Regions from separate parts of the Homo sapiens genome. Here region 1 is linked to region 2. Evidence: fine-mapped expression QTL. A gene starts in region 2. The other region holds a variant in brackets. All regions are shown on one strand. Distances are from middle to middle.

Region 1 (2,910 bases), 170 kb after region 2:
GTTTAATGTGTATTGAGTTTCAGCTTGGGATGACAAAGAGTTCTGGAAATGGATGGTGGTGATGGTTGCACAACTTTGTGAATGAACTAATGCCGCCAAATTGTATATTTAAAATGGTTATAATGGTAAATTTTGTGTTACGTCTATTTTACCAAAATAGAACACACTATGTGCATGGTTTTCTTTTATAAAATTTAAAAGCATTACAGACAAGGCTAAAGGCCCCTTTTGCCACCTCCCCCATCCAGATTCGCAATTCCCCCTTTTCAGTGCTGTTATGTTTATTCCTCTAGAGCTGCTTCTGTGTATTTACCTGAATTCATGTGTACTTACTAAAATTAAATACATTTTTAGCTTTATCGAATAACATATCTGCTCTGGTATAGAGTTGTTTATTTTTGAGACGAAGTCTCACTCTATCACCCAGGCTGCAGTGCAGTGGCACGATCTTGGCTCACCACAACCTCCGCCTCCTGGGTTCAAGCGATTCTCCTGCCTCAGCCTCCCGAGTAGCTGGGAGTAGCTGGGCATGCACGCCACCATGCCCGGCTAATTTTTGTATTTTTTTTTTTCAGTAGAGACGGGGTTTCACTGTGTTGACCAGTCTGGTCTTGAACTCCTGACCTCGTGATCCGCCTGCCTTGGCCTCCCAAAGTGCTGGGATTACAGGTGTGAGCCACCGCACGCAGCCTGCTATTGAGATTTGAAACCATCATTTGTGGTAAAAACATTCTAAATACAAAGCTTCCTGCCTTATTAATGGGGATTTTTTTTTTTTTGGTGGTTATTCATCTTTAAAATATTTTTTCTTTTTTCTATTTTTCATTACATGGCAGGGTCAGTGCCTGCAGACCCGCTTTTGTTTATGCTAAAGCCAGCTAGCTCAAGTTTCTCCCTGCTCTAGGGAACATTCTGTCCCTTCTGTGGGATTCCAGGTCTAATCTTCCAGTTTCAGGGCACTCTTAGCTTTTCCACTGGATTGCTTCAGCAGGCGGCCTCTCAGTTTACATAACTTTATTTAAATCATTTTCTTATACTTTCTCCCTGCTTCCTTCCCATCTTCAAATTTGCTGTGATATCAAGGCCTTTGTAAAAATTTTGTTTCATTCCCTATGTTTGAAGAATCCTCATTTGAGAAAGTTAAAGCAATTGAGAAAGGTTACGAAGCAGAATGTGTAACTCCATCATATTTTGATAACATCTTTCCAGATATCTCTAAATGGCCGATACTCACATGTGCAAAATTTTTACATAAATGGGATCAGACTATGCATATTGCATCACAGTTGGTTTTCTTAAATTAATATGTCCTTATGGTTTTCTGTGTCAGTGAACATGGATCTATAGTATCCATATTGTCTATTGGCTCATATTTTAAAATAGCGTATTTGCTTTTATATAGAAAACCACAAAGAAGCAAGCAAAAAAATATACCACGTTCTCCCATTCTTGGTATCCCTCATTGAACAGTTTGTAAAACTAAAAGAAACATCTTGTGAGTTCAGTAAATTCTTGCTACCAAAACTTACAAAATGAAAAGTGAAAGTTGAAAGC[C/G]ACCCTCTCTTTCCTAGTTCTTCCTCCTAACACTAAATACCTTTATTAGTTTCTTGTAAATCCTTCAAAACATACTTACTTACTACACATACTTATCTGTTCTAACACACCATAAAAATCACACTGTACAGTTATTTACTTTGCCTTTTGTAATTTATCATGGGCATTATTTCCTAACTGCAGGGTAAACATATCTGTCACTTTTTAACAGCTTACATTAAAAAGTCATTTGTTAGGCTGTGCCATAATTTATTTAATTGGTTTTCTATCATGGATATTTTGGTTGTTTCTAGGGTTTTTGTGTATTTTTGTTATTACTATTACCAATTATGTTACAACAACATCTTTGAGCTTCTAAGAAGTCTTGCCAGCATATCTGCAGGGAAATTCTTTTTTTTTTTTTTGAGACGGAGTCTCATTCTGTCGCCCAGGCTGGAGTGCAGTGGCACCATCTTGGCTCATTGCAAGCTCTGCCTCCCGAGCTCACACCATTCTCCTGCCTCAGCCTCCCGAGTAGCTGGGATTACAGGCGCCCGCCACCACGCCCGGCTAATTTTTTTTGGTATTTTTAGTAGAGACAGGCTTTCATCCTGTTAGCCAGGATGGTCTCGATCTCCTGACCTCGTGATCTGCCTGCCTTGGCCTCCCGAAGTGCTGGGATTACAGGCGTAAGCCACTGCACCTGACCCGGGAAATTCTTAAGCATGGGGGACTGGGTTAGAAGATGTGTGTTTTACATATTGATAGAAATTCCCAAATTGTCATCCAGAAAGGTTGCACCAAATAACGTATCAACAAAAGCACTTGGGAGTGCTTATTTCCCCAAATTCTTCAAGCACTGGTTATCAGACTTTTTAGTTGTTGCCAATCCAATAATTTAAGGTTGGTATCTTGTCCTGATTGCCTTTACTTCATTATGAGTGAAGTTATGACACTTTTAAAGTGCTCATTGGCTATTTGTAGCTTTTTCTTTAAACTGTGTTCATATACGTTGACTTTTTTCTCCTATGCTGTTCATCTTTTTCAGTAACAGTGAAATCTATATGAATAGCTAACATTTACAAAGTATTACATTGCTTGCATATTCAACAAGACACCAAATAATGAACATTTAGGATGTTTACAGTATTATCTTGCTACTTTAAACATTCTTGCACATACATCTTTGTACTTTGGACCAGATATCTATCTGTTTAAGTTAAATTTCTAGAAGTGGAATTGCTGATTTAAAGTTGAATTATTTGTCCAAATGTTCCAAAGAGCATTGTGTGATAGGGGAATGGTCCAAGTGAAGAAGTAGGAAAGAAAGGAACTAAACAGTTACTCCCAATTGCAAGGCCAGTCAGCTCTAAATTA
Region 2 (2,910 bases):
CCGTCGCTCCCCTCGCCGGCCAGGCCCTGCCGACCTGTCACCCGCTGCTCCCAGGCCACCATCCCGGACCTCCCAGCTCTCCAGCCGTGCCACGCCTGATGGGCCTCCTGCATACAGCAGAGCCCACACCTTCCGCCAGCACTTCTGCGGGAGGGGAGCGGGAGGGTGAAGACCCTTGGGTGGCAGATTGTCCGTGCCACTTGGCTCAGCACAAGCTGCTCGGCAAACGCTCCCAGCCAGGAGCGGGCCTCTGCTCCCCAGTTTCTCAGGGAGCCAGGTAAGGAGGCCTTGGCTATGCTTGGGATTGGTCAGCCCTGGGTTCAAATCCCAGCCCGCTCTTTCCTAACTGTGACCTCCACAAGCATCAATGTCGTCTCTCAAAAGGCCATGAGAACTCGAGCTGGGACTGCTACTGGGTCATGTTTGTAAAGCATCCAGTGGCCGGGCAGACCACCAGACACTGCCATTATATTGGTTCCCTCTCACCCCCAAAAAGGGGCACTTGGGCCACAGGCCAAGAGCTGGGGTGGGAGGGAGGCCTCTGCCTCAAGCTGTTAAGGAAGGAAACATGCAAATAGCTTCGAGCAAAGGAAACTGACGGTTTATCTGCCTGGGCAGCAGCTGCAGCTGAGCTGCGGGGGTGTGGGGCTGCTGCCGAGGAGAGGTGACCCCCTGCCTCCTTGCTCCCAGGACAGTGCCGCTGCAGGGAGGGGCTCCACCCTTGAGGCCTCCTCCAGCTCAGCCCCTCACCCTATTTAGGGCCCTCGGTGGCACTATTTCATGGGTCAGAGGCTGTGAAGCTCTTCCCTGCTGGGAGGTTTGAGCCTTCGACCCTCTCCCACTCCTGTATTTCCCATCTCTCCCGGAGGCAGGGTCTGGCAGAGCCTGCTCAGCCCCTGCCGTCTCAGGCTGACACCCGCACTCCATTCCACTCCCCATACCTGGGTGGGATCCTCCACCCTGACTCCCTTCCCAAGTCTCCCAGGTCTGCCTGGGCTGTCCGAGGCAGGGGCAGAGGCTGCATTCTCCACCCACTGTTGGTCCTTGGCAGCTGCCTGGCAGCCAGGGGTCCCCACCTTGCCAAACTTGACATGCTGCTGGTAGAGGATGCCATCCTTGATAGGGGTCTCCAGAGGGTCCATGGTCACGGCCAGGAGCAGGGCCGCCGCTTCAAGACCTGGGGAGACTGATGACAGGCTGGACGGGAACTCCTCACACTTCCCCTTCTGGCCACTTCCCGTCCCTCCGTCTAGAGACAGCTGCAGGCCGGGGGGAGGGGAGCCTGTCTTCAGCTCAGGGGCTGGGGGCAGCATGTATTTCCTCCCTGGGGTTCTGGCTGCCCAAGGTGCCCACACCTACCTGGAGGGAGCCCCCGGCCACCTGAAGGCAGCCTTCTCACGCACCTGGTTCAGCTGGGCACGCGCGTCTGATCGCAGTCTGGCTCCCCGAGTCATGAGTTCCCGCCCCTCCCCCGTCCCGCCCCGGGCAGCTGCGCACCCTGGGCCTGACACTCCCTGGCCCTGCCTCCACCCAGGACCCTTCTCTAGCCAACTCCTGGCTTTCCCACTCGGCGTCCTGGTTTGAGCGCCTCACCCCATCTTGCTGCTTTTCTTTCTCCCTGAAATCTCTCTCGTGTTCACCTGCTCCTCTCCACCTCACGAGCCACTGAACATCACCAGCCTTTGGCATCCCCCCAGGGGCCACTGCCCCACTGGGCCTCCATGCAGCACTCTCCACAACCCAAGACCAACCTGTCTCTCCCCTTCCTGGGGTGCAGCCCAGGCTCCTCAGCCCAACACTCAGGGACCTGTGTGTTCTGGCCTGCATCTCCCCCAGGCCAGCCCCTCCAGGGCCCCCTCACCACTGTGCTGCCTGGGGCGGTTGGCCACCTCTTCCTCCTGGAGGCCTCCCTTGACCACTCCACGCTGTCCGAGAGCTCAAAGGCCCTCACGGTATACACTCACGCTGGGCATCCAGTCCACATGGGACCCACAGCCCTGAATGGCCCCAACCACGTGAGTGTGGGTGGCAGGTCCCAGGGGGCCCCGGAGAGGTCACATGTTCATTTAAAGCTTTGCTTCCTGCTGGGGGCGCCTTTTGTTGGCTTGCCTAGCAAGATGCCAATAGCGGGGCTGTGTGTATACCTTTATTCTGGAACAGCCTCAGGTCATTCAGCACCACCTCTGGGAGAGAACATGGAAGAGGATAAGGAATGCCATTTGGGAATGCACTTGGCCAGGAAATATGTCCTGAAGGCCTCCTGGCACCCAGCTCTGTGCCCACTGTGGCCCAAGCAGCCCTAAGCTCCGTCCACCTCAGACGCCACATCCTTTGCGTTCTCATCGCCATTTCAACAGTGAGGAAATCGGTGCTCAGAAAAATTAAGTAACTTGCCCAATGCCACATATCAAGTGACAAATATGGCTTGAGCAACCGCTGTCTCACTGGAATGAGCATGTGGCCATACATGCAAAGTGCCTGGCTCAGAGGAAGTGTGGCCGCCTGTGCCGTCCCTGCCTACCTCTCACCAGATGCTGAGATCCTGCCTCATCTGCTAGCGGTCTTGTGACTGCCGTCCACGTTTCTGCGTGTGCGTCTTTCTCTCCCCTCGCCTGACGGCTTCCCAGGCAGCCATCTCCCTGGCCCATCTAGGTCCTCACAGCTCAGCAGAGCTGGGCACAGAGCAGGCTTAGGGAGAGCTTGTGGCCTAAATGGCAGTTCTATGACATCTGCTGCCTCCTCAGTCAACGGAATGGAGGGCTCCCTCCAGGTGGCTGGCACAGGCAGGCAGTGGGTGGGGGTCCTGAGGCAAGAAGCAGCCTCCCAAGGGGCTTCAGGAGAAGTCCCTGAAACATCACAGCCCTGACAGGAAGAGTGGGCCTGAGAGCTATGACAGCTGGCCAGGGAGAC

The links.
Region 1: its variant is fine-mapped to the expression of DOK3 in whole blood (INTERVAL, PIP 0.99).

What each region holds. Positions count from the first base shown.
Region 1 is chr5:177,676,439-177,679,348 of GRCh38, forward strand. All of the region lies in intron 1 of LOC107986489 (a long non-coding RNA gene), which reads left to right. Among named protein-coding and RNA genes, the nearest start is that of B4GALT7, 78 kb to the left of the region's middle. The variant C/G (reference allele first, on the strand shown) is at 1,555.
Region 2 is chr5:177,508,399-177,511,308 of GRCh38, forward strand. It overlaps DOK3 (docking protein 3), which reads right to left and starts at 1,428. Exons shown (of 6, transcript NM_001308236.3): 1 at 1,360-1,428; 2 at 1,077-1,259; 3 at 1-144. The coding sequence starts at 1,142. RefSeq lists a silencer at 1,414-1,553 and an enhancer at 1,684-1,833.